Homo sapiens: one gene and its partners. Each later gene encodes a partner of the first gene's protein in a complex. Each region holds a gene or a part of one and is shown on either strand. Other genes may lie near its edges.

Region 1 (7,096 bases):
CAAAGCTGGTGCTCTTTCACCAACATTTTGCTGCTTCCTTTTGCAAGCAATAGGAGGGAGCCTAAGAGAAGGGAAGCGTCTCCATTGAGTCCCAAAGAAATGTCTCAATACTCTCCTCTGAGGGAAAGGACATGGCAGTGATTCTCAAGCAGAAGCTTCGCTCCCTGGAGCTCTGCTCCCGGCTTCTGGCCTTGGTGGACCAAAGCTCTCACCTCCTCTGATGTCCTCCCAAGCTTGGGGAGAAAGGGAGAACCTTGTCCAGCCTCAGGAATCTTGCTGTGCTATCTTCCTAGTGACGGAAAATGTTTATCCATTCACTATCTGTGTAGTGTACAATTCTGGGAGGGACACAGTGCAGATGGACTCCCAAATCTACTGATTTCCTGCTCCTTGTCAGTGCCCTGTGCTAGCCTTGGGGGATGGGGTGGGGAGTGAGGCAGTGCCGGAGCCTGTCTTCCCAGCCAGAGAGCAAGGCTGCAGCGTGGGCCCCTCATACAGTCATTTTACCTCTCAGGAAACTCCCCCAGCCCCTGTGGATCTTTCCTACCTTAGGAAAAGACAAACACAGGTTTGGATAGGATTAGAACATGGAAAGGTCTTAAGAAGGGCCCCTTGATGAGGTCCTGGTGCTGTTCAGCCCATCTTTCTCTATGGACACCACTCAGTGGGACACCAGAGGCGGGGTGGGGTTGGCTAAAACAAGATCCAGCCCAAGCAGGATCTGATCCTCCCTCAACCCTGCCAAAGTTGACCCACCTCTCCCTTCAGTAATTCCTAGCCCTCTGCTCTTTCCCTCAGGAGTTCTCCACCTCCAAGTGAAGCCAGGAGAGCAAAGGTCACTCTGGTTTCCAAGTGGTTTGCCCAGCTTTTCGGCTTTTCACTAAGATGAGGACTGGTCTTTGGTAAAAATGACTCCCTTTCTGACTGCTTATCAAGGGTGGGCTCTAGGCTGGACCCTCACAACACCCCGCGAGGTGTGGGCTGTCATTACTCCCATCTGCAAGAGAATTGAGGTTCAGCCTGGCTAAGTGACTCACCCAAGGTCACAAAGTTGTTTTTTTGTTTTGTTTTGTTTTGTTTTGAGACGGAGTTTCGCTCTTGTTGCCCAGACTGGAGTGCAATGGCGCGATCTCAGCTCACTTCAACCTCCGTCTCCCAGGTTCAAGTGATTCTCCTGCCTCAGCCTCTCTAGTAGGTGGGATTACAGGCATATGCCACCACGCCTGGCTAATTTTGTATTTTTAGTAGAGACAGTGTTTCTCCATGTTGGTCAGGCTGGTCTCGATCTCCCGACCTCAGGTGATCCACCTGCCTCGGCCTCCCAAAGTGCTGGGATTACAGGCATGAGCCACCACGCCTGGCCATTCAAGGTCACAAAGTTAGTAAGAAGCTGTGCAGCCAAGGATTCTGACCAGATTAGTTTGACCCAGAGACTAAAGTGTTAACCATTATGCTTTACTCCCTCCAGTGTCCACTCTGGCCTCCTCCGAGGCTGCAGGGCGAAAGAGGGGGCTCTATAGCACACTCAGGTTCTTTGAGTTGCTGGACTATCCCTTAAGACTCTTTTCTTTTTAAATATCAGCAAGGCTGGGATGGTGGCTCACGCCTGTAATCTCAACACTTTGGGAGGCCAAGGTGGGCAGATCACCTGAGGTCGGGAGATCGAGACCAGCCTGACCAACATGGAGAAACCCTGTCTCTACTCAAAATACAAAATTAGCTGGGCATGGTGGCGCATGCCTGTAATCCCAGCTACTCAGGAGGCTGGGACAGGAGAATCGCTTGAACCTGGGAGGTGGAGGTTGCGGTGAGCCGAGATCGCGCCATTGCACTCCAACCTGGGCAACAAGAGCAAAACTGTCTCAAAAAAAAATAAAAAAAAAAATATATCAGCAAAACTAGAACTAGGAGAGCTTTGCTTTTTATTTTAAATCTGAATCAACTGAAAAATCAAATCTGCTTTTCACACCTTGGCTCTTCATGCCCAAGTAGCTGTCTGCTGTGGGGACTGTTCACCCTCCCCATGTCTGTTTCCTCCGTCACTGCTGCTGCACTGTAACAGCTAGGCCATCAGCAATATCAGGAGGTAGAGAGGCAGAAGGAGATTGTCTATCTGTGTAGTGTATGCTTCCAGGAGGGACACAGTGCTGATGGACCCCAAAATCCAAGCATAACTGTAGTTTAGGTCCACTCCACTGTCAAAGATTAAGATCAGAGCTACAGAAATGATCTGCGCAAATATAGATGTCATGGTCCCCTCAAAAGTCTTTTTGGTTCCAGGCCAGCGGATCTCCCCCATGGTGCTACCGAAGATGGAGGCCACAGTATCACCCACACCCACAGCCAGGACACCGGCATAGGGGACGAGGGCCCTGGCTCCTCCCAGGCTACCCTTCTGTGTGCAGGGTCTGGGGATCAGCCAGATGGGAAGAGACATGCCCAGGAGCAGGTAGATGTGTGTCAGAATGAGTGGTCCACTGTCTCGTTCATCCAGAAAAAGGGACAGGAAGCTCCGTAGAGTGTGACCCAAAGGCTTGATGCGGAAGTAGCGCACATACTCCAGGAAGATGAAGACCGCCAGGCATACAGTGGCGGCTACATAGAGCAGTGGCCGGTCAAAGATGATACCTGGGATGTAGGTGGCTACCACAATGAGGTGGAAATACTTTCGGGCGATGGTGGGGGCCTGGTGCTTCTTGGACTCGGAAGATGACCGCTTGGCATTCTGGTACAGCACCACCAGGCAGGCCAAGGTGGCCAGCAGAGACCAATAGGCTAGGAGGTAGATGCGGGTGTCTGTCTGGAAGAGAAACTGAAGAAGCCAGAGCAGGGGATTCCTGCGGATGAGCCGGTGCAGCCAGGGTAGGACCACACCAAGGCTCAGCACACAGGTCATGAGGTGGAAGAAGATGGAGGAGGCCCAGGTGCCTGAGTCCATGAAGACAAACAGAGTGCTGAAGAAAATGCCCATGAGTACCATCCCTACTACCACCACCAGCAGGAAGAAGTCCACTGGGTCCCCCTGACTTTCCACCAGTGTCAGAGAGCGCTTGATGAGCTGGTTGAGGACAAAGCTAATGCCACCCAATACCAGCAGTGCCTCACCAGGGGTGAAGCAGCGGGGCAGCAGGTACAGCAGGATCATGTTGAGATAAACGAAGATCAGAAGGACTTCCAGGACTTCGATCACCTCCCCCACGCTCAACGAGTGCTTCATGATATAAATGATAACACCTCCAGCCAAGCCCAAGATGACACAAGTGTTGGTTGGCACTGGGCGAGTGATGCCGAGCGCCAACACTGATGAGAAGAGGGCCACTGCCATGCCAGTGGCTGCCACCACAATGCCAAAACGCTCAAAGAACGGGTTCCCAGCAGTCTGGCACCGCTCCTTCATGACTAGTCCAAGCAAAGGCATGACCATGGAGGCGGGCAATAGGCCACTGTTTGCGGACATTCGGAACTGGAAGACGGCGCTTCCCTGCTGTAGCAGCCGGTCCCACTTGTATTGGACGTAGAAGGCCTGCACTGCGAGGGCCACGGCGCACCACGAGTATCGGTCCCATACGGTTGCGTGGATGCTCAGCACCACTGCAAACACTACTGCCGCCTCTGCCAGCACCGATCCACTCAGCGGAGCCCCAGGCCCCGGGGCCGGAGATGGGCACTCTCGGGTCATATCTCTAGACCTGGGGCTTCACGGAGGCCGGGGCGACTACGGACGCCCTAGACTTCGGGCCCCTCAGCCCCGTCAAGCAGAGGGAGGCACTTTCACCCGGCCAGCAACCTTCTCCCTCCGTTCTCCAGCAGCGAGGAGGGAACTCCACCGCAGGTCACTTCTGCGGCCTGGGAGCTGGCGCCCGGCCACCCCCCACAGCCTCCAACCTACGGCGTAGACGTCGCCACTCTGCAGCCTTCCTCACAGTTACAGCCGCCCCCGCTGCCGGCTCCTCACCTCTTTGGGCCTCGCCATCTTGGCACCGCCCCGCGGCAACGTCACGTGACGAAATCCCCGCCCACGCTCCGGGTCCGGGGGCGAGCGGTCACGTGGGCATGGCGTCTGGGGGCGGGGTTAGGGCGAGCGGGCGCGCGAAGATGGCGGCGGCCGCCGGCGGGCCGTGTGTGAGGTGCGGAGCGGGTCGAATGGACCGGGGTGGCTGTGAAGCGCGGTGTCAAAGCCGAGCGGAAGCGGGGCGGGAATTGGAGGCGGGATGTGGCGACAGTGGCAGGGCCAACCCCGGCTGGATGGACGGGCACCGAGACGGGAGGCGGTTACGTCCAAACGGTCCCCGCGCGCGGGGATCTGAAGAGTCTTCTTCAGGAGGGGGGCCGGCTCTTCACCCCTTCCCTCCGCGCTCGGCCTCCCATCTCCTCACCCAGGGCCCTTTGCCTTCCTCCTCTCTCACCTCCGACGCGTCTCTTGGCGCCCCACCCGCGCTTCCTTCTCCGGCCGTGACGCTCCCTCGAGCCACGGGGAGCTTTGCGGTCTCCTGGGGTACCCCCCACCCACGTCCCTGCTGCAGGCTCCCAGTGTCCTGCCCCGGCGTCGAGTGCGCCCTGCTGGCTCCCCGACCTCTCCCGCGATCTGTTCTTGTTAGGATTTTGTTTCGCGTTGAGCGGAGCCACGCTTGCGGCTTCTGTCCTCTCCGCGCCTCGTATCGTTCTTTTCTTGCACTGAATCAAGTCAGCCAGCATGTCCAAATCCTCCAAGAGATTTCAGGGATTGAACTAGGCTTTAGGGACAAGAAGATGAAATATTATATACGAAAACTACAATTCTGACAAAGTGCTTTCTAGCGTCAGACCCTGGTGGAGCGCTTCCCAGGAGTTATCTCATTCAATTCTCGCAACTCCGAGAGGCGCCTTCTATTTCACAGATGACTCAGAAGTCCGGCTCAGAGCTAGCCAAGTGATAAAGAGAGCCTTCAAGCTGAAGTCTGCGTACCTCCAGTGCTATAACCAGACCACCACGCCTCCTTCTGTCTTCCACATTGCAGCTCGAAGGTCTTCGTTCTTCCCACCACCCTCCCTCAAAGTTAAACATCCCCGTCTCTTATCCTTCCCTGTGCCAGCAGTGTTTTCCCCACTTTTTTTTTTTTTTTTTTTTTTTTTTTTTTTTGAGACGGAGTCTCGCTCTGTCGCCCAGGCTGGAGTGCAATGGCACGATCTCGGCTCACTGCAAGCTCTGTCTCCCGGGTTCATGCCATTCTCCTGCCTCAGCCTCCCAAGTAGCTGGGGATACAGGCACCCGCCACAACGCCTGGCTAATTTTTTGTATTTTCAGTAGAGACAGGGTTTCACTGTGTTAGCCAGGATGGTCTCGATCTTCTGACCTCATGATCCGCCCGCCTCGACCTCCCAAAGTGCTGGGATTACAGGCATGAGCCACCGTGCCCGGCCCTAACAATATTATTATATAACAAGATTACTTTCCAAAAATTTAACAAATCGTTTTGTATATTGAGATTTTTTGCTTTTAGAGAGCAGACAAAATGGCTATGAGGCAGTGTACAAGTTTGTATGATCAGAAAGAGCAAAATTACCTCTGTTCTCTCATTTTGCAGGAGCAGTAGAGAACTGTGGACTATTCTGCTTGGAAGGTCAGCTCTGAGAGAGCTGGTAAGTGGTGGTGTTCTTGAGTGGGTTCTCTGGGTTCTTTGTGTAGCTTTTGTTACCAAAAAAAACCTTTTTTTAAATGTAGGAAGTAAACACATTTATTTATTTAGAGACAGAGTTTCGCTCTTGTTTCCCAGGCTGGAGTGCAATGGCGTGATCTCGGCTCACCGCAACCTCCGCCTCCCAGGTTCAAGCGATTCTCCTGCCTCAGCTTCTCGAGTAGCTGGGATTACAGGCATGCACCACCACGCCCGACTAATTTTGTATTTTTAGTAGAGATGGGGTTTTTCCATTTTGGTCAGGCTGGTCTCCAACTCCCGACCTTAGGTGATCTGCCCTCCTTGGCCTCCCAAATTGCTGTGATTATAGGCGTGAGCCACCACACCTGGCCTATTTATTTATTTTGAGATGGAGTTTCACTCTTGTTACCCAGGCTGGAGTGTAACAGCATGATCCCAGCTCACTGCAACCTCCGCCTCCCGAGTTCAAGCGATTTTCCTGCCACAGCCTCCCGAGTAGCTGAGATTACAGGTGCATGCCACCACACCTGGCTAATTTTTGTATTTTTAGTGGAGACAGGGTTTCACCATGTTGGCCAGGCTGGTGTTGAACTCCTGACCTCAGGTGATCTACTTGCCTTGGCATCTCAAAGTCCTGGGATAACAGGCGTGACGGCCACTTTTTTTTTTTTTTTTTTTTTTTTTGAGGGGGGTGTCTTGCTCCCAGGCTGGAGTGTAAGTAGCTCGATCTTGGCTCACTTCAACCTCTGCCACCTGGGTTCAAGTGATTCTCCTGCCTCAGCCTCCCCAGTAGCTGGGATTAGAGGTGCCCACCACCACGCCCTGCTGATTTTTATATTTTTAGTAGAGACAGGGTTTTGCCATGTTGGCCAGGTCGGTCTTGAACTCCCGACCTCAGGTGATCTGCCTGCCTCAGCCTCCCAAAGTGCTGGGATTACAGGCATGAGCCACCACACCCGGCTACGTTTTTTTGTTGTTGTTGAGACAGAGTCTGGCTCTCGCCCAGGTTGGAGTGCAGTGGCACGATCTTGGCTCACTGCAACCTCTGTCTCCTGGGTTCAAGTGATTCCTGCCTTAGCCTCTCAAGGAGCTGGGGATTACAGATGCATGCCACCACGCCCGGCTAATTTTTGTATTTTTAGTAGAGATGGGGTTTCACCATGTTGGCCAGGCTGGTCTTGAATTCCTGGCCTCAGGTGATCTGCCCACCTCAGTCTCCCAAAGTGCTTGGATTGCAGGCATGAGCCACTGTGCCTGGTATAAACACTTTTTTTTTGTTCCTAAAACTTTATAAACGTGGTCAGATGCAGTGGCTCATGCCTGTAACCCCAGCACTTTGGAAGGCCAAGGCAGAAGGATCAATTGAGTGCACAAGCTCAAGGCCAACCCTGGCAAGATAGCAAGACCCCGTCTCTACAAAAAATTTTTTAAAAAATTAGCCAGGCATGGTGGTGCATGTC
Region 2 (7,593 bases), on another chromosome or scaffold:
GCCTCACTAATGTTCAACATTTCAGCTAGGGTCTGGAATGGCTAAGGGTTGGCTAGGCCTCTCTCCTCATGGTCTTTCGTCCTCAAAAAGACAAGCTCGAGTTTCCTTACATGGGCAAAAGAGCAAAAAGGAAGTAACAAGGTCTCTTAAATCCTGGGCTTGGAAGTGCCCAACATCACTTCCTCTGCATTCTCCTGGTCCAAGCAAGTCAGAAGGCCAACCCAGATTCAATGTGGCAGATGATTACACAATGGCTTCAATTCAGGGACCTGTGATTCACTGAGGGCCTTTTAATAACAATCTACCACAAGAAGCTAACAGTTTTAGTGAGGAGACAATTGTCATAGCACATTGGGACGTAATAAAGATGGGAAAAAGTGCAATAGGTCTGCAGGCAAAGAAACACCCGAATTTGATGGGGCAGGGGATCAAGGACAGCATCATGAAGGCAGCATTAACACAGGCCCTGAGACTTGGAGAGCAGATCATGTTTGGAGGTTAACTTGGTGGGTGGTCACAGGTGAATAAGGAAGGGAAGGAAGGGCAGTCCAGGAGGACAGAATAGCAGGTGCAAAGACATTGATACATGGCAAAAGAAAGCATGTTGTATTTGGGGATAACAAATAGTTCAGAATGATTAGAGTAAAGGGCTCTTGAGGAAGAGTGTGGAAGGCTGAAGAACGAGGCTGAACCATATCAGGAAGTGTCATGAGTGCCTTGCTAAGAAGATTTTAAATGATACTCTTAGTAATAACTCTTAGTAATAGAAGATCATTGAGAAATTTTGATCAGAACAACCACATCATGTGTTTTTTTTTTTTTTTTTTTTTTTTTTTTTGAGACAGAATCTCACTCTGTCACCCAGGCTGGAGTGCAGTGGTGCGGTCTCGGCTCACTGCTATCTCCGCCTCCCTGGTTGACACCATTCTCCTGCCTCAGCCTCCTGAGTAGCTGGGACTACAGGTGCCCTCTACCATACCTGGCTAATTTTTTGTATTTTTAGTAGAGATGGGGTTTCACCGTGTTAGCCAGGATGGTCTCAATCTCCTGACCTCGTGATCTGCCCGCCTCGGCCTCCCAAAGTGCTGGGATTACAGGTGTGAGGCACTGCGCCTGGCCATATTTTTTTTTCCTTTTTTTTGAGACAGAGTTTCACTCTTCTTGCCCAGGGTGGAGTGCAATGGCGTGATCTTGGCTCACCGCAACCTCTGCCTCCCGGGTTCAAGCAATTCTCCTGCCTCAGCCTCCTGAGTAGCTGGCATTATAGGCATGTGCCACCACGCCCAGCTAATTTTGTATTTTTAGTAGAGACGGGGTTTCTCCATGTTGGTCAGGCTGGTCTCGAACTCCTGACCTCAGGTGATCTGCCTGTCTTGGCCTCCCAAAGTGCTAGGATTACAGGCGTGAGCCACCGTGTCCGGTCATGTTTTTTTGTATTTAAAAATCACTTTCAGGCTGGGCACAGTGACTCATGCCTGTAATTTCAGTGTTTTGGGAAGCCGAGGTTAAGAGTTCGAGACCAGCCTGGCTAACATGGCAAACCCCCGCCCCCCGCCATGTACTAAAAATACAAAAATTAGCCGGGTGTGGTGAAATGCCCCTGTAATCCCAGCTACTCAGGAGGCTGAGGCACAAGAATCGCTTGAACCCGGGAGGTGGAGGCTGCAGTGAGCCAAGATTGCACCACTGCACTCCAGCGACAGAGTGAAACTGTGTCTTGAAATAAATTAATAAAATAAAATAAAAAATAAAAATCACCTTAGGAGTCCATGAAAGGAAGATCAGATGGAAATAAGAAAGACAAATGAGAAGGCTATTGCAAAATACCAAGTTTAAGAAGATGAGACTTGAACAATGGCATAGAAAGCAGAGAAGAGGAAAAGGGTTCCAGAAATATTTGTGAGGTAGAATGAACAGGATTTGACAATTGAAGGAAGAATACAGAAAGAATCCCAGGTTTCCGATTTTGGCAACTGGGTGGGGATACAGGTGGCAGAGTTTTAGGGGAAAAGTGATCATTTACGTTTCAGACATGTTGGTTTTGAAACGCCTGTGTGGCAATCAATACAGATATGAAGTAGAGAGTTGGTTCTACAAATATGAAGCTCAAGAGAGAGGACTGGACTAGAGATACAAACACAGAATTCATCAGCAAGCAGGTGGTAGTAAGAAACCATAAGATGTCCCACAGAAAGCATGTAGAATGAAAAGGACAGAAACTAGAGATGACTATAGGGGAAGAGCTAGATTTAGTGGGTAGAAGAGGAAGAGAAGTCCACGTAAAACACTAAAAAAGAACTGGAAAGAGGAGGAAAACCAGTATCATTGGTGCCCCAGTAGCCACAGGATAATATAATTTTGTTTCTTTCTTTTTCTTTTCTTTTTCTTTTTTTTTTTTTGAGGCAGAGTTTTTACTCTGTTACCCAGGCTGGAGTGCAATGGTGCGATCTCGGCTCACTGCAACCTCTGCCTCTGGGGTTCAAGCGATTCTCCTGCCTTAGTCTCCCAAGTAGCTGGGATTACAGGAGTCCTGTCACCACGCCCAGCTAATTTTGTATTTTTAGTAGAGACAAGGTTTCACCATGTTGGCCAGGCTGGTCTCGAACTCTTGACCTCAGGTGATTCTCCCACCTCAGCGTCCCATAGTGCTAGGATTACCGGCGTGCGCCACTGCACCCGGCCTATAACTATCATAATTCAGAAAAGTGCCCATGGAATTTGATGACTGATAACTGGTAAACATACCAAGCGCAGTTTTAGAGGGGCTTATGATGGCAATATCCCAATTGCTACGAATTGAAGAAGCCTGTGAGAGAATGCTTGTAAAGTGTAATGACAGGTGAAGAGGAGTTGCTGGAATTTAAAGAGTTACTTTATAGAAAGCAAAGTTATCTACTGAGAGGGAAGCGTGTGGGCTTAAAAAGTGCATGTGGAGAGGGAAAGGCTTGTAATAGCTGTGCTGAGAGAGAAATCTTTGAATGCCGCTTCCTGTCAAGTTCCTGCTCAGTATTCTTCTCAGTTTCATGATAAACTTCTTGAAAAATTCCTTTGCGTTTACTTTCTCTCTTCCCCACTTCACTCCTTAAAACCACTTTAATCGTAGTTTGGCATTTGTCTCTATATATCAATGACTTTTAGAAAAAATCACCAGTGATTTTTGTGTTTCAAACCTAATGTACATTGTGTCACTTGATATTATTTGTTCAAAAGAATAAATGTTCTGTTCTGGATATTCTTTTTTTTTTTAAATGGAGTCTCACTCACTCTGTTGCCTAGGCTGGAGTGCAGTGGTATGATCTCAGCTCACTGCAACCTCCACCTCCCGGGTTCAAGGGATTCTCCTGCCTCAGCCTTCCGAACAGCTGGGGTTACAGGTGCGTGCCGCCATGCCTGGCTAATTTTTGTATTTTTAGTAGAGACGGGGTTTCACCTTCCTGGCCAGGCTGGTCTCAAACACTTGACCTTAAGTGATCGCCTGCCTTGGCCTCCCAAAGTGCTGGGATTACAGGCATAAGCCACTGCGCCCTGCCAGTTCTGGATATTCTTAACATACTCTATGCTTTTGTCTAAATTATTTGATTCTGATTTCCAACAGTGAAATGGGAATGATGGAGAGTTAATACAATGAGATTGTAAGGCACATGGAGCGTCTCTGACATAAATAGTTATAATCATATCATTTTCCCAATAGAATGGTTTGCAGGGATTAAATGAGATAATGGCTATAAAATTTTTCTTAATACATAGCTGTAAATAGCAATGATTATTTACATTTTAGTTTGAAAATCAGCAAACTAAAATTTAACAGCTGAAGAAAGAGTTCAGCTACTTTGGGTGCTCAGGTAGAAAAATACTTGGTGATTATGAAACGATATGTCTGGAATCTGTTTCAAACTAATCGGGGGCGGGGGGTGGGGAGGGGAGGGTGTTGGGGTGGTAAGGGTGGGTTGGGGCTGCCGTGGTGGGAAATTGGCCACGTTATTGATGCTGAGTGTTTGCTATTCTAATTTTGTATCCGTTTGAAAATTTTATAATTAAAAATTATGATTTGTTTCGCTCTACGCAACTATGTTGACAGAATATATTTGGTAAACTGAAATGTCACGGAAACTTAGTTTGTAACCGGTCAGTGGCTTTTTGAGGTGTAGACACTTCATACCTTACTTCACTCCCCACTGTAAGGAAGATTTAACTTGAAGCGGAGATAATGATTTGAATTTACGGCTTTTATAATGTCATAAATGGGCGTCATTTTAATAACTACTCTCAGAATATCTTTTTCTATTCCACTTTACTTTTTCCTCTCCACTTAACCAACTCATCATTAGAAACTACAAGTCCCAGGATGCACTACACGATGAACGTCGGATCGAGGACCTCGTGTCTCTGAAGTGGTTGCCCTCGCCTTATTTGAATGGGAATAATCCCAATGAAAATTGATGTTTGTGACCCAGAGCAGATTCTGGAGCCTTTTGTACGCCTGGGACGGCCCAGCGTGGAGGGGACAGTGTGGTGCCTTTTTGTTCAGGCTTCGCTCAGGTCAGCCTCACCCTTTCCCGGGGCCTCCATGCGGCAGAAGGGCTCTGTTAGTGCGCCTCTAAGATGGCGACGCCTTTGGCGGTAAATTCGGGTAAGTGTGGCCAGACAGAAAGACGATTGAGCTGAGCGATAACCAGGTCTTCATGGAGAGACGAGACCGTGAGGTTTCTCGGAGTCTAGGACCCCACTTATGTGCGGTGCCTGCTTTTCCCTAATTCTGGGCCTAGAGTCCCACCCCTCCCCAGTTTGAATGGCGCGCGTCGGTGCTGCGGCTCCAGCCCTCGAGTTGGGGTTTGAGATTCCAGGCAGTGAGGCTTGGGCCGCTGGACCCAGGTGTGTAATCTCTCACAGCCCAGGGCTGAGTCTGGTCCCCCTCACCCCCAAGTTTCACTGTGCGTCTGTGGTCCCGATTTCGCTGGAATACGCATCAGGTCTTCCACAGTGAAGCCAGAGGACCCGAGATATTTTCCAGCCATGAGCAGAGGCTGAAAGTAGGCGTCGGAGTTCCTTATAGGGTGGGAGATCTTGCAGGCAGCGAATACTCCCTATTATGAAGTCGGCCATCTGAAAGGTGGTCAGGAAGAGGGTGGCGGGGCTTCAGCAGACGTCTTCTAACCCTGCGGATGTGGTTAGGCCCTGGATGTTCTTGTACCTTTGGAGCTGTAGATTTTCGGGGTGGAATTGAATCTAGAAGGTAGTAAAGGAACTCTGGAAGATTTGGGGTGGATCCTCTTTCGGTGATTCTCAATTCGGGCCGTACCGCCCTCCAGTGGTGTTTGAATGAGTGAGTGCATTTTGATTGTCATATTTCCTGGGGTACACTGCTGTCGCATAGTAGGCGGGGCAAGGATGCAGAAAGTCCTTCATGGTCAGAGCAGTCCGGAAAAATAATTTGGTGCCTAGAATGTTAATGCCTCGATTGAGATGCTCTGAAGTTCGCGGGCAAGATTAAGAGTATATCTGTGTGGTAAATGCTTGTGAGAATCTCACTTAAAAGGACTCTTTTTTAAAGTATTGGTTCTATTTTCCACAGGACTGATATTCTTGAAAAGTTGTCTAAATCTGTTTTGTAAATCAAATCATTTCAGAAAAGCTATGATAAATTATAATGAAGGCTATGTTTACTGAACACATACTATATCCCAGCATTGCACTTATTATCGTGCTTATCTCATTCAGTTCCCGTTTATACACCTTTGGAGTAGTTACTGTTACATACTCCGTTTTACAGATTTGGAAATAGAGGCTTCAAATAGTTACGTAATGTCCCCAGAGTTAAACATCTAATGATCTAAGTCAGTCTTAGGTGCTTAAACTACTTAGTGCTACTGCTTAAGCACAACCTAATTCATTTTATGATATTAGACGTATATATTAGAAGGTTAGTAATGAAGTTACATGCTTAATATTGCGGTCCTTCCTTCCCAATTAGATATGCTTAACGTGTGGTTGTATATAATACATTTCTCTATTTTATTTTATTTTTTAATTTTTCTTTTTGAGATGGAGTCTTGCTCTGTCTCCCAGGCGGGAGTGCAGTGATGCGATCCGCGATCCTGGCTCGCTGCAACCTCTGCCTCCCAGGTTGAAGCAATTCTCCTGCCTCAGCCTCCTGAGTAGCTGGGATTACAGGCATGTGCCACCACGCTGGGCTAATTTTTGTATTTTTAGTAGAGGTGGGGTTTCTCCATGTTGGCTAGGCTGATCTCGAACTGCTGTCCTCAAGCGATCTTTCTGCCTCGGCCTCCCAAAGTGGTAGGTTTACAGGTGTGAGCCAGTACGCAAGGTATACACATTTATTTTCCTTTTTTTTTTTTTTCTTTTTTTGAGATGGAGTCTCATCCTGTCCACCCAGGCTGGAGTGCAGTGGCGTGATCTCGGCTCACTGCAGCCTCCACCTCCTGGGTTGGAGCAACTCTCCTGCCTCAGCCTCTGAAGTAACTGGGATTACAGGCGCCCGCCACCATGCTTGGCTAGCCTGGCTAATTTTTTTTTGAGATGGAGTCTCACTCTGTTGCCCGGGCTGGAGTGCAGTGGCACGATCTTGGCTCACTGCAACGTCCGCCTCCTGGGTTCAAGCGATTCCCCTGCCTCAGCCTCCCGAGGGGCTGGGATTACAGGCGCCCGCCACTACACCCAGCTAATTTTTTGTATTTGTAGTAGAGAAGGGGTTTCACCATATTGGCCAGGCTGGTCTCGAGCTCCTGACCCCGTGATTCACTCCCTTCAGCCTCCCAAAGTGCTGGGATTACAGGTGTGAGCCACTGCGCCTGGCCAATTTTTTTTGTATTTTTAGTAGAGACGGGGTTTCACCATGTTGGCCAGACTGGTCTCAAACTCCTGACCTCAGGTGATCCGCCTACCTCGGCATCCCAAAGTGCTGGGATTACAGGCGTGAGCCACTGTGCCTGGCCTATATACATTCCTTTAGTACATACTCGCCCTAAGCTATTATAATTATTAAACAAATCATTGGAGGGAAAAGGAGTTGCCAACAGCAGCAAAGAGTGTACATTGTATAATAAAGCCTTGTGTCAGGAGTGTTTAATTGGCAACATAGGAAACATTTTTAAAAGCCAAGAGTCAGGAGCTGGTTTTTTAAAAAACTAAACGTCTTAGGGAAGGAACTCTTTTTCCATCAAGGAATGAATGTTGGGTTGAGTGGGTAAAGGAAATGTGTCATATACATGCAATATGCATAATACATATACATGCATATACATAACATAACGTATACATGCATATATATAGTATCCTTATGCAGCCTTAAAAAGGAAGGAAATCCTGTCACATAAAACAACGTGGATGAAACTTGAGGACATACTAAGTGAAATAAGCCAGTCACAAGACACAAATACTACATGATTCCACTTATATGAGGTATCTGAAGTAGTCATACTCATAGAAACAGAAAGTAGAATGGTGGTTGCCAGGGGCTGGGAAAGGGGAAAGTGGGGAGTTGTTTAGGGGGCATAGAGTTTCTGTTTTGCAAGATGAAAAAAGCTGTGAAGATCTGTTGCACAATGTGAATACACTGAACACTGCTGAACTGTA
Region 3 (7,024 bases), on another chromosome or scaffold:
ATTAGGTTAATGCTGTTTATGAAAACTAAAAATACTGAAGTTTGACTAACGACGGAGTGAAATTAGCTTACCTGACTACCACAGATGTTTTCATACTCTTCCACAAGATCAAAAACTGTACTCGAAGAGTGCTTCAGAAAAGACTGCAGGAAATCAGAAAACATACTCATGGATGCTAGAACACATCAAAAAAAAAAAAAGGAATAAAGAAAAGTTAAGTGACGTACTTCTAGGTAATTCCGTTTGTTTGAAAATGTATTTATTTGTTTATTTATTTTTTGAGATGGAGTTTCACTCTTGTTGTCCAGGGTGGAGTGCAATGGCACGGTCTCAGCTCACTGCAACCTCCACCTCCCAGGTTCAAGTGATCCTCCTGCCTCACCCTCCCAACTAGCTGGGATTACAGGCATGTACCACCATGCCCAGCTAATTTTTGTATTTTTAGTAGAGATGGGGTTTCACCATATTGGCCAGGCTGGTCTCAAACTCCTGACCTCAGGTGATCTGCTCGCCTCAGCCTCCCAAAGTGCTGGCATTACAGGCGTGAGCCACCGCACCCAGCCTGTTTGAAAATTTAAATGGCTACAAGTCTTTTATAAATTCACTGCTATATTAAAAAAAAAAAAATTGAGACAGAGTCTCACTCTGTCACCCAGGCTGGAGTGCAGTGGCGCAATCTCAGCTCACTGCAACCTCCACCTCCCAGGTTCAAGCGGTGCTCCTGCCTCAGCCTCTCAAGTAGCTGGGACTACAGGTGCGTGCCACCATGCCCAGCCAACTTGTTGTATTTTTAGTAGAGACGAGGTTTCACTGTGTTAGCCAGGATGGTCTTGATTTCCTGACCTCATGATCCGCCCACCTTGGCCTCCCAAAGTGTTGGGATTATAAGCGTGAGCCACCGCACCCAGCCTCAAAATTTTTTTTAATTGGCAAGATACACATAATATAAAATTTATCTTAATCATTTTTCTTTTTTTTTTTTTTAAGAGAGGGGGATCTTGCTCTGTCACCTAGGCTGGAGTACAGTGGTGCAATCATGGCTCACTATAGCCTCAAACTCCTAGGTTCAAGTGATCCTCCCACCTCAGCCTCCCCAGTAGCTGGGACTATAGGTATATACCAGCCACCATGCCCAGCTAATTTTTTATTAGTCTGTAGAGACAGGGTCTTGCTAACTCCTGTCTCAGCATCCCAAAGTGGTAGGATTAAAGGCATGAGCCACTATCCCTGGCTTAATCATTTTTAAGTGTATAGTTCAGTGTCAGTAAGTACATTCACATTGTTGTGCTACCATCACCACTATGTATCCACAGAACTATTTCATCTTGTAATACTGAAACTCTGTACTTAATAAACATTAACTCCCCACTCTCCACTTACCCCAGCCCCTGACAACTATCCATCTACTTTCTGTCCCTACATGTGTTGACTATTCTAAATATCTCATGTAAGTGGAACCATAGAGTATTGCCCTTTTGTGACTGGTTTATTTCACTTAGCATAATGTTCTCAAGGTTCATCCATGTTGTAGCATGTGTCAGAATGTCCTTCATATTTGGCTGAATAATATTCCACTGTATGTATAGATCACATTTTGTTTCCCCCATTCATCTATCAACAGGTACTTGGCTTGCTTCTACCTTTTGGCTACTATGAATCATGCTATGAACATGCATGTACAAATATTTCTTTGAGACTCTGCTTTCCAATCTTTTGGATATATACCCAGAGGCAGGTTTGCTGGATCATATGGTAATTCTATTTTTAATTTTTTGAGGAACTGCCATACTGTTTTCCATAGCAGCTGTACTATTTTACATTCCAACCAATAGTGCACAAGGATTTGAATTTCTCCACATTGTTGTCAATACTTGTTATTTTCTGGGTTTTTGTTCTTGTTGTTGGTTTGTTTGTTTTTCAGTAGCCACACTAACGGGTGTAAGGCAGTATCTTGTAACTCACTGTAGTTCTGATTTGGATTTTCCTAATGATTAGTGACATTTGAGTATATTTTCATGTGCTTACTGGTCATTTGTGAATCTTCTTTAGAACAGTGTCTATTCTATTTCTTTCTTTCTCTCTTTCTTTTTTGAGATGAAGTTTCGCTCTTGTTGCCCAGGATGGAGGTGCAATGGCATGATCTCAGCTCACCGCAACCTCTGCCTCCCGGGCTCAAGCGAGTCTCCTGCCTCAGTCTCCCGAGTAGCTGCGATTACAGGCATTCGCCACCATGCCCAGCTAATTTTGTATTTTTAGTAGGGAGAGGGTTTCTCCACATTGGTCAGGCTGGTCTCGAACTCCCAACCTCAGGTGATCCACCCGCGTCAGCCTCCCAAATTGCTGGGATTACAGGCATCAGCCACTGCGTCCAGCCTCTGTCTATTCTATTTCTTTGCTCATTTTTAAATTGGGTTGTTTTTTTGTTGTTGAGTTGTAGCAGTTTTTATACATTTTGGATATTAACCCCTAAGCAGATATATGATTTGCAAATATTTTCTCTCATTCTGTGGGTTGCCTTTTCACTTTGCTGATTGTATTCTTTCGTGCACAAAAGTTTAAAATTTTGATGTAGCCCAATTTATCTATTTTTTCTTTTGATACCTAAAGGTCTTTTAAGATCTCAAAGATATACTAGTTATTTTATAAACAATTACTTAAGAAATTGAGCCAGATTTAAAAATATCTGAATTATATTTTAAGCACACCATTACAAAGTAGTGGAGAAAGTTATAATACATACTAAATGGCATGTTCCACTCTGGGAAAATACAGGCACTTGGCCTAAGTAGAAAGTATTTTGAGTCACTTAATACGAGTACCTGTTTTTGACAGATACTACAAGAAAGTAGTAGTTACCAAAGTGTTAAGAGCAGGGCTCTGGAGCTAAACTGCTTAGTTTCAAATCCTGGTACCACTACTTCCTAGCCAGGTGGTTTGAGGTAAGTTACTTAACCACTTTGAGCAGTAGTTTCCTTTTCTCTAAAATGGGAATAATTATTGTAACTATTTAATGGACCACCATAAGGATTACATGAGTTAATGCTTGTACAGTGGTCATAACACTATCTGAAAAAAAATAACAGCATTACGGTCCAGGAGAAAACAAAACACATCAACAATGTTAGATTAAGAACTAAACCTAAAGAAAGAGATGCTCTTTCAACAGCACAAATAAGAAAAAAATTACAATATGAGACTTGTCTAATAACGTAACAGGCTGCTATTTACATTAAAAGATAAAATGGCAAGATGCTGCTCAGACTGAGAACCAAGGTGAGGTTCTCAACCTTCTAGTGATACTGTATCAAATACCATTGCCATAACCACAACTAATTAGCTTAAGGAAAAATATATTATAGACAGAAGACCAGATGAAGACACAGGAGGAAGACAGCCATCTGTAAGCCAAGAGAAGAGGCTTCAGAGAAAACCAACCCTGCCAAGACCTTTAACTCAGACATCTAGGCTCCAGAATTGTGAGAAAATAAATTTATGTTGTTGCCTATAATCCCAGCACTTTGAGAGGCTGAGGCGGTAGGATCACTTGTGTCCAGGAGTTTGAGACCAGCCTGGGCTGGTCTTTGTAGACCCTGTCTCTATAAAGAAATAAAAAATTAGGCTGGGCACAGTGGCTTACGCCTGTAATCTCAGGACTTTGGGAGGCTGAGGAGGACGGATCACTTGAGGTCAGGAGTTCGAGATCAGCCTGGCCAAAATGGTGAAACCTCTCTCTACTAAAAATACAAAAATTAGCCAGGCGTGGTGGTGGGCACCTGTAATCTCAGCTACTCAGGAGACTGAGGCAGGAGAATCACTTGAATACAGCAGGTAGAGGTTGCAGTGAGCCGAGATTGCACCACTGCACTCCAGTCTGGGCAACAGAGTGAGACTCCGTCTAAAAAAAAAAATAAATAAATAAATAAATAAATAAAAAATTAGCTGGCGGCCAGGCGCAGTGGCTCACACCTGTAATCCCAGCACTTTGGGAGGCCAAGGCGGGTGGATCACCCATGGTCAGGAGTTTGAGACAAGCCTGGCCAACATGGCAAAACCCCGTTTCTACTAAAAATACAAAAATTAGCCGGGTGTGGTAGCAGACGCCTATAATCCCAGCTACTCTGGAGACTGAGGCAGGAGAATCATTTAAACCTGGGAGGCGGAGGTTGCAGTGAACCAAGATCCCATCACTCCACTCCAGTCTGGGTGACAGAGCGAGACTCCATCTCAAAAAAAAAAAAAAAAAATTAGCTAGGCATGGTGGTACATGCCTGCAGTCCCAACTATTCAGGAGGCTGAGGCTGCAGAATTGCTTAAGCCTGGGAGGTTAAGGCTGCAGTGAGCCATGATTGTGCCACTGCATTTCTGCATTTAGCCTGGGTGACAGAGTGACTGTTTTTTTTTTTGTTTTTTTTTTTTAGACGGAGTCTTGCTCTGTAGCCCAGGCTGGAGTGCAATGGTGCGATCTCAGCTCACTGCAAACTCTGCCTCCCGGGTTCAAGCGATTCTCCTGCCTCAGCCTCTCAAGTAGCTGGGATTACAGGTGTGCACCACCATACCCAACTAATTTTTGTATTTTTAGTAGAGACGAGGTTTCACCATGTTGGCCAGGCTGGTCTTGAACTCCTGACCTCGTGATCTGCCCGCCTCGGCCTCTCAAAGTGCTAGGATTATAGGCATGAGCCACCGCGCCCGGCAACAGAGTGAGACTCTTGTCTCAAAAAACACACACACAAAAATCTGTTGTTTAAGCTACTCTCTCAAGAAAAAAAGACAGAAAGAAAGAAAAGAAAAACATAATGACGTTCAGAAACAGGAAGAAATGGTTTCCTTCATCTTGCTAAAGTGAAAAGCTACTTGTCACAAAGCTCAATGCCATTTTACCAGCTTCTCCAGGATCATCCTCACGTAACATAACAGCACTGATAGTTACATCTTCTGTTATACTGTGGGGCTCTGTGTTTGTGAACAGCCCGGAACGCTGTGATGAAAATGCAGCTGCCCAGTTACTGTCATCCAGATTAGTAACCTTAAAAAAAAACAAAAAAGTAAAAATACAGAAAAGTGATGGAGTTATTGTCACTGAGTGGATACTTTAAAAACAAATAAGGTTTCTAAAAATTATATGTATGTATGCGTCTTTTTTTTTTTTTTTCCCTTCTTGAGATAAGGTCTGGATCTGTTGCCCAGGCTGGAGTTCAGTGGCACGATCATGGCTCAACGCAACCTTTGCCTCTCAGGCTCAAGCCATCTTCCCACTTCAGCCTCCCAAGTAGCTGGGACTACAGGCACGTGCCACCACGCCTGGCTAATTTTTGTATTTTTGGTAGGTATGGGGTTTCACCATGTTGGCCAGGCTGGTCTCAAATTCCTGGCCTCATGTGATCCACCTGCCTCAGCCTCCCAAAATGCTGGGATTACAGATGTGAGCCACCATGCCCGGCTACTATAGTGTATTTTTAATACTTAGGTGAAGTCATTCTGCATCACAGCTTACATAACATTTCTTTTGCTATTTTTAATACTGTTCCATAGTGATTCCTAAAGAGTATCTCACCTACTTTTTCCAATTTTCTCTTTTATCCCCTTTAATACATTTTATCTCTTCCTTAAGATATTCTTCATCTGTTAACCTCTGATTCCTACTCTTGTATGCTTCAAAACAGGGATCAGATTTTATAGCCATCAGCAACCAACCACAGCATGTACTTCTTCTGGTCAGCAAACTGACAGATTAAAACATCTTATTTTCATCTAAAGGTTGCTGGTGTCACAGTTTCCATCTGTGATATCAGATGCATAAGGTTTTCAGTTTTTTTACTGTCTAATTATTTCAATCCATATAACCTAAAGTTACTGTTATGATGATTCTGACTCAATATTTGTTAAAAGACTTTTACATCAAATATCATATTTTTATAAAAAGGGAGAAGTTCTTTTTTCTCTTTTTTTTTTCTTTTGCAATCACAGGTCACTGCAACCTCTGCCTCCTGGGTTCAAGCAATTCTCACACCTCAGCCTCCCGAGCAGCTAGGATTACAGGCATAAGCCACCACTCCCAGCTAATTTTTTTATTGTTAGTAGAGACAGGGTTTTATCATGCTAAGCAGGCTAGTCTCAAACTCCTGACTTCTGGGAGGCCAAGGCGGGAGAATCACTTGAGGTCAGGAGTTCAGGGAGTGCTGAGATTACAGATGTGAGCCACCACACTCGACCCAAAAGGAGTTCTTAGCCCTATTTTTCTACATACCATGGAGAGATTTCCAAAGAACCCTGAAGACTGCGTAAGTCGGGGCGACTTCCCTCCTGTTCCAAGAATGCAGGAAATATCTGGCTGCCTTAGTAAGCTTCGGCTTGTTGGGGTAACTATAAACAAAAGGTTGGTAGAAAGAACCTAAAGTGCGTGAGCATTCATTATCAAAACAAAGTAAGCAAACAAACAATGAAGAATAAATTTTTCAGTTTTCCATTATTTAGACTCTAACCAAATAAATACTTTAAATGTTAACATTTCCATGATACAAGGATTTAACTTATTTTTCTAAATTTGAGCTGTAGGTACTACTGAGCCTAACAGGAAACATTTTACTGCAATTACAGATGCTTTCATTATAGAATAACTGAGCAGTTAAAGACACTAATCAGTCAACGGATTCTTCATATTTTAATTTTATAAGGCATACTGAGGCAGTGCAGTGTAGTGGGCATAAACTTTGGAGTAAACAGATCATTGTTTGAATCCCAGTTCCATTATTTACATACTCTTTTTTTTCTGTCTCAGAACAAAAAAAGAGTATGTAAATAATGGAACTGGGATTTTTTTTTTTTTTGCTCTGTCGCCCCAGCTGGAGTACAGTGGCACAATCTCAGCTCACTGCAACCTCTGCCTTCCGGGTTCAAGCAATTCTCCTGCCTCACCCTCCGGAGTAGCTGGGATTACAGGCATGTGCCACCACGCCAGCTAATTTTTGTATTTTTAGTAGAGATAGGGTTTTGCCATGTTGGCCAAGCTAGTCTTGAACTCCTG
Region 4 (7,024 bases), on another chromosome or scaffold:
TAATTTAGAGTTTCAATCTTATTTTCTCTAATGTCTCAAAGCTTGCCAAATTAATTATTCACTTACAGTAACATTACTGTAGGCCCAGTTATGACCTGTGAGACCCAGATATTGATATATTACAAATACTTTTACAAGTGGGTGATTCTAATGTGTTCCCAGGGTAGAGAACCACTATTTTGAAATAATTTTGAATTCTTCTGCCACATGTCCCTTGGGGTTATTTTTTAAATTTTTGCTTTTGGCAAAAAAGTTGCTGAACAATTTTGTTTTTGTTTTTGTTTTTGAGACAGGATGTCACTCTGTTGCCCAGGCTGGAGTGCAGTGGCATGAACACAGCTCACTGCTGCCTTGACCTCCTGGGCTCTAAAGCAATCCTTCCACCTCAGCTTCCCAAGTAGCTGGGACCACAGGTGTGTACCACCATGCCTAGCTAATTTTTACATTTTTTGTAGAGACAGGGGTCTCACTATGTTACCCAGGCTGGTCTCAAACTCCTGGGCTCAAGCAGTCCTGCCACCTTGGCCTTGCACAGTGCTGGGATTGTAGGCATGAGCCACTGCACCTGGCCCTGAACAGTTATTTTTGAGCCCCCAAGTTGGTATCTCATCCAGATCAGTGGTTACTGTTCTCAGGAAGTTCCCATGCAACCTGTGGCTTTTGTTCTCAGATCATTCCTTTGCAATATGTCCTTAAGAATTTTTGTCTTTCTGTCTCTTTTTTTTGAGACGATCATTCTGTTGCCCAGGCTGGAGTGCAGTGGCGCAGATCTCAGTTTACTGCAACCTCTGCTTGCTAGGTTCAAGTGATCTCCTGCCTCAGCCTCCTGAGTAGCTGGGATTACAGGCATGCACTGCAACACCCCGCTAATTCTTTTAGTATTTTTAGTAGAGATGGGGTTTCGCCATGTTGGCCAGGCTTGTCTCGAACTCCTGACCTCAAGTGACCAGCCCGCCTCGGCCTCCTAAAGTGCTGGGATTACAGGCATGAGCCACCACACCCGGCCCTCTCTCCTCTTTAAAAACATTTTTTTTTCCCCTCCATTAAATCTGTCTGAAAGAGAGTTGATTTTTTATTGTGTTCTTTAAGGTACTGAGTTATGTATCCTGTGACATTTTTTCTTTTTCATGAGAGTTTTTAGCAGAAGGTGTAGGGTTCTTTAAGACAGTGATTCAGCAAGTGATAAAAAGTTGAGAGGTGTTTCTTTCCTCTAAGATAGTGGGGACTTGGTCATCTAAATTGAGGTATGGGATGGAGAAGTTTCTAGTTTTCACCTTCTTGCAGGTATGCGAGAGTGAGACCATCATTGTTCCCCCATACAGAAGTAGGATGCTTAACAATCTAATACCCTTTGGGCAGTTGAAGTCAGTGAGATTCTCCCAAGGCTGCTTTCCACCAGCCCAACCAAGAAATCTACATTCCAGCATTAGCTTCTTCAGGAAGAAGTAGAGATGCAGAAATTATAAACATGTTTAGGCCATTGTGGCTAATTTGGAAGTAGCAGGTTTGGCCTGCTGAGCTAAGTTTACAAAATTTCAAGGTGGGTACTTGAAATTTTAGAAGTAGGTAAAAAGAACCTACTTCTTTACTTGGAAGTCCTTGTGTAGTTTAGTATTAGGAAGTTTATCCAAGGCAGTGACAGTCTTATCTTTGTATCGCTAAGCATAACAATAATAAATGTACTCTGTACTCAACAGTATGAGTTGAATTTACTAGCTTTTTTTTTTTTCCTTTTTTTCCTTTTTTTTTTTGGTGACAGAGTCTTGCTCTGTCACCCAGGCTGGAGTACAATGGCACGATCTCTGCTCATTGCAACCTCCGCCTCCCAAGTTCAAGCGATTCTCCTGCCTTAGCTTCCTGAGTAGCTGGGATTACAGGCACCCGCCACCACGCCCGGCTAATTTTTTTTTTTTTTTTTTTTTTAAAGACAGAGTCTTGCTCTGTCGTCCAGGCTGGAGTGCAGTGGGGCGGTATCTGATCACTGCAACCTCTGCCTCTCAAGTTAAAGTGATTCTCCTGCCCCAGCCTCCTGAGTAGCTGGGATCAGTCACCCATGACCACACACTGCTAACTTTTTTTTTTTTTTTTAAAGACAGAATCTTGCTCTGTTGCCCAGGCTGGAGTGCAGTGGGGCAATCTCAGCTCACTGCAACTTCTGCCCCCCAGGTTGAAGCGATTCTTCTGCCTCAGCCTCTCAAGTAGCTGGGACCACAGGCGCATACCACCACTCCCGGCTTTTCTTTTCTTTCTTTCTTTCTTTTTTTTTTTGAGACGGAGTTTCACTCTTGTTGCCCAGGCTGGAGTGCAATGGTGCCATCTTGGCTCACCGCAACCTCCGCCTCCTGGGTTCAAGCGATTCTCCTGCCCCAGCCTCCCGAGTAGCTGGGATTACAGGCATATGCCACCATGCCTGGTTAATTTTGTATTTTTAGTAGAGACGGGGTTTCTCCATGTTGGTCAGGCTGGTCTTGAACTCCTGACCTCAGGAGATGCGCTCACCTCGGCCTCACAAAGTGCTGGGATTACAGGCGTGAGCCACTGCGCCCAGCCTAATTTTTGTATTATTAGTAGAGATGGGGTTTCACCATGTTGGCCAGGCTGGTCTCGAACCCCTGACCTCAGGTGACCTCGGCCTCCCAAAGTGCTGGGATTACAGGCGTGAGGAATTTACTAGAATAATATAATTTTAAACATTTAAAATTGATGTACATATTACATCATCAGGAATTAGAGGGATTGATAAAATAAGAGGGGGATGAAAAATGTAAAAAATAGATACTAGTGTTTAAATATCCTGATTTATTCATCAGATAAAAATTTCCAATGGGCAAATACTGGAGCAGCTGTGTTTGGAACACAGTCAGTCGGAACCCAGTCAGCCGGTAAAGTTGGTGAAGATGAAGATGGTAGTGATGAAGAAGTAGTTCATAATGAAGATATCCATTTTGAACCAATAGTGTCACTACCAGAGGTAAATGTTAAGGAATTAACCTTTTACTAATAACTTATTTTTCATTTTTAAGTTTTACCCTGGCTTGATCTGTCAGGGTATAATTGTTTGCATTTAAGAATGTTTACTGTTTGAAATGGAAGCTCTATTTATTAGATGTCTAGCCTTTAAGTATAAATTATCTTTTTACAGTTTTTACATAAATATTGGTTTGTAAATTCTATATGTAATTATTGGTAAGAAATAATTTTTTCTTATGTTTCTAGAATATCATGTTTGTTTTTATAACATGATTCTGGGGAAAAATTAACCTCATACTCACTAAAGTCCTTTCAATAAATGTTAACCTTGTATGTTTTTTGGACAAGAACATTGTTCTAGGAAAATTACTTTGTCATTTTTTAACCTCAGTCAGTAGCTAATATTTCTCTTCAGTAGCAAACACTTTTGAAACCTCTCTGTCCTATAAAGAAAAGCATTTAATTTCCAAAGGGAAAATGAATATTATATAAAAGAAAATGTTTAATGATAAATCAGGTCTTTACTCCCTCAGCCAAATCAGATATATTCCTAGCCCTAAGATATATAACCAGTTATCACATTAACAAATTCTCTTTGTCATCACAAAGAAAATGCCTTAAAAGAATTTGGATCTTTGAAATTTGTCATGGAATTTATTATAAGCAGCAGCTTATAGAGAATTTCATCTCCTATTATAGGTAGAAGTAAAATCTGGAGAAGAAGATGAAGAAATTTTGTTTAAAGAGAGAGCCAAACTTTATAGATGGGATCGGGATGTCAGTCAGTGGAAGGAGCGCGGTGTTGGAGATATAAAGATTCTTTGGCATACAATGAAGAATTATTACCGGATCCTAATGAGAAGAGACCAGGTTTTTAAAGTGTGTGCAAACCACGTTATTACTAAAACAATGGAATTAAAGCCCTTAAATGTTTCAAATAATGCTTTAGTTTGGACTGCCTCAGATTATGCTGGTGAGTTTTTACATTCAAATGCTACTTTTCATTTTTTGGACTTTTCTAAAATCTATAACAAACAAAACAACTTATAACAGTTATTTTAATACTAAGGTCACTGCTTCCCCTTTCCCTCCCTGCCAGATGGAGAAGCAAAAGTAGAACAGCTTGCAGTGAGATTTAAAACTAAAGAAGTAGCTGATTGTTTCAAGAAAACATTTGAAGAATGTCAGCAGAATTTAATGAAACTCCAGAAAGGACATGTATCACTGGCAGCAGAATTATCAAAGGAGACCAATCCTGTGGTGTTTTTTGATGTTTGTGCGGACGGTGAACCTCTAGGGCGGATAACTATGGAATTATTTTCAAACATTGTTCCTCGGACTGCTGAGAACTTCAGAGCACTATGCACTGGAGAGAAAGGCTTTGGTTTCAAGAATTCCATTTTTCACAGAGTAATTCCAGATTTTGTTTGCCAAGTAGGTATTATTAAGTACATACCACAATTGAGGTCTTGAAGAGTGCACCACACTAATGGGAAATTTGAGTGTTTTTCCTTGACCTCATCCTGTAGTTTTGTTAAAGATTTCTTTAGGTTTTCCACACATGGAATCACATGGCATCACTACCCATTCCCTGCTCCTGCCTAAAACTTTCAACCTAAAATAATTGAGGCTGGGCACAATGACTCATACCTGTAATTCCAGCACTTTAGGAGGCCAAGGCAGGCAGATTGCTTGAGCCCCGGAATTTGAGACCAGCCTGGGTAACATGGCAAAAATCTCGTCTGGACAAAAAAATACAAAAATTAGCCAGGTGTGGTGGTGTGCGTCTGTGATCCCAGCTACAAGGAAGCTGAGGTGGGAGCATCCAGGAGGCCAAGGCTGCAGTGAGCTAGGTTTGCACCACTGCACTCCATCCTGGGCGACAGAGTGAGACAGCCTGTCATTAAAAAAAAAAAAAAAAAAAAAAAAAAAAATCAAATTTTCAGTACTTGAGATCTAGTAGAAACTAAGGGATGGGAAAAACCTTTTCATTTTTCATCTTCTTTCCAACAATATGAATTTCTTAGTTTTCAAACTATACTCAGGAAAGCTGGGCTTTAGGATTTAACATGTAGTGATGAGTTCTGTGTGTATTTTAATATTTTACTCAGGATTCCTATTAATTGAAAAAAATTTTTAACTTTTTTATTATAAATCTTTTTTTCAGGGAGGAGATATCACCAAACATGATGGAACAGGCGGACAGTCCATTTATGGAGACAAATTTGAAGATGAAAATTTTGATGTGAAACATACTGGTCCTGGTTTACTATCCATGGCCAATCAAGGCCAGAATACCAATAATTCTCAATTTGTTATAACACTGAAGAAAGCAGAACATTTGGACTTTAAGCATGTAGTATTTGGGTTTGTTAAGGATGGCATGGATACTGTGAAAAAGATTGAATCATTTGGTTCTCCCAAAGGGTCTGTTTGTCGAAGAATAACTATCACAGAATGTGGACAGATATAAAATCATTGTTGTTCATAGAAAATTTCATCTGTATAAGCAGTTGGATTGAAGCTTAGCTATTACAATTTGATAGTTATGTTCAGCTTTTGAAAATGGACGTTTCCGATTTACAAATGTAAAATTGCAGCTTATAGCTGTTGTCACTTTTTAATGTGTTATAATTGACCTTGCATGGTGTGAAATAAAAGTTTAAACACTGGTGTATTTCAGGTGTACTTGTGTTTATGTACTCCTGACGTATTAAAATGGAATAATACTAATCTTGTTAAAAGCAATAGACCTCAAACTATTGAAGGAATATGATATATGCAATTTAATTTTAATTCCTTTTAAGATATTTGGACTTCCTGCATGGATATACTTACCATTTGAATAAAGGGACCACAACTTGGATAATTTAATTTTAGGTTTGAAATATATTTGGTAATCTTAACTATTGGTGTACTCATTTATGCATAGAGACTCGTTTATGAATGGGTAGAGCCACAGAACGTATAGAGTTAACCAAAGTGCTCTTCTCTAGAATCTTTACACCTCCTGTGTGGTTACAAGTTAACTTTGTAAGTAGCGTACCTTCCTTCCTTAAAATATCTAGCTTCCTGTGCCCTTTCATAGATATTCGATTAATTTTTACATTTTAAACAAGTTGACTATTTCCTTTAGGGGTTTTGTTTCAAACTTTTCTGTCATCTGTCTCTACTACCTCAGAAACTGCAGCTTGGTTCTGATGATAGAAATTGAATTTTTCCTTGTAGTTATTGTGATAAAGTATGAATATTTTTAGAAAGTCTATACCATGTTCTTTCGTTAAAGATTTGCTTTATACAAGATTGTTGCAGTACCTTTTTCTGGTAAATTTTGTAGCAGAAATAAAATGACAATTCCTAAGAGCCACTGACATCCAAAAAATTCATTACTTACGCTTCGGGTTCATTCTAAAGTAAGGAAGACAATTTAAAGGCAGTAAATTCAAACTGCTGCATAATTTCCAGAGCTCCTAGTTTCTCAAGTTTGATACACACCAAAAACGTATTTGGAAATGGCTTGTATCAAATGTTAGGCAAATTGCTAAAGAAAAGAGGATGTTCTTATTGGCCTACTCAATATGGAACTACAAAGAATCCAGGTAGAACACAAAATTTTGTATATTGCAATTATGAATATTGACTGTCTTCCACCCATCTGTGTTCTTTCGGGTGAAATTACCTCATTTTATTTAGTGAGGAAAGACAGGTTTATTCCCTGTTACATGGGGATTTGGAAATTGGGTATCCTAAAGCAAGTAACTGTTCAACCACCAGTCAAAAGAGGGGAGGGATGTTGTGCGAGTAATGAGTGATGGTATACCATCACCATTCCACTCGGCCACAAAGCCAGATACTTGAAATAAACCTACTCCAAATGTATCAGTTCAGTCTTGAACCATGGATTACATATGTTTACACTAAATATTTCAAATTGGCTTATTTGGAAATCTATGTAATATAAACTGATGTAAAGTGTGTTGTAACTTTTCAGCTGAGACAGTTGATGCCTTCGTCATGATTTTAGAATAAATTCTTAAGTTAATGCAAGTGCTTT

What was found.
Region 2: NUP188 (region 1) and NUP205 share a complex: the UniProt entries of both Homo sapiens proteins name them as parts of the nuclear pore complex.
Region 3: NUP188 (region 1) and NUP107 share a complex: the UniProt entries of both Homo sapiens proteins name them as parts of the nuclear pore complex.
Region 4: NUP188 (region 1) and RANBP2 share a complex: the UniProt entries of both Homo sapiens proteins name them as parts of the nuclear pore complex.

Annotation. Positions count from the first base shown.
Region 1 is NC_000009.12:128,943,625-128,950,720, forward strand, and holds the start of NUP188 (nucleoporin NUP188), read left to right. Parts: upstream 1-4,074; 5' UTR 4,075-4,095; coding exon 4,096-4,127; intron 4,128-5,564; coding exon 5,565-5,619; intron 5,620-7,096. Other genes in the region: DOLK (dolichol kinase), read right to left, coding at 2,063-3,679. UniProt on the Homo sapiens protein: Component of the nuclear pore complex (NPC), a complex required for the trafficking across the nuclear envelope. Required for proper protein transport into the nucleus.
Region 2 is NC_000007.14:135,553,343-135,560,935, forward strand, and holds the start of NUP205 (nuclear pore complex protein Nup205), read left to right. Parts: upstream 1-4,574; 5' UTR 4,575-4,602; coding exon 4,603-4,630; intron 4,631-7,593. UniProt on the Homo sapiens protein: Plays a role in the nuclear pore complex (NPC) assembly and/or maintenance. May anchor NUP62 and other nucleoporins, but not NUP153 and TPR, to the NPC.
Region 3 is NC_000012.12:68,689,970-68,696,993, reverse strand, and holds part of NUP107 (nuclear pore complex protein Nup107), read right to left. Parts: intron 6,392-7,024; coding exon of another isoform or gene 6,364-6,391; coding exon 6,248-6,363; intron 5,027-6,247; coding exon 4,882-5,026; intron 176-4,881; coding exon 72-175; intron 1-71. UniProt on the Homo sapiens protein: Plays a role in the nuclear pore complex (NPC) assembly and/or maintenance. Required for the assembly of peripheral proteins into the NPC. May anchor NUP62 to the NPC. Involved in nephrogenesis.
Region 4 is NC_000002.12:108,778,459-108,785,482, forward strand, and holds part of RANBP2 (E3 SUMO-protein ligase RanBP2), read left to right. Parts: intron 1-2,810; coding exon 2,811-2,971; intron 2,972-3,669; coding exon 3,670-3,943; intron 3,944-4,069; coding exon 4,070-4,404; intron 4,405-5,137; coding exon 5,138-5,443; 3' UTR 5,444-7,024. UniProt on the Homo sapiens protein: E3 SUMO-protein ligase which facilitates SUMO1 and SUMO2 conjugation by UBE2I. Involved in transport factor (Ran-GTP, karyopherin)-mediated protein import via the F-G repeat-containing domain which acts as a docking site for substrates.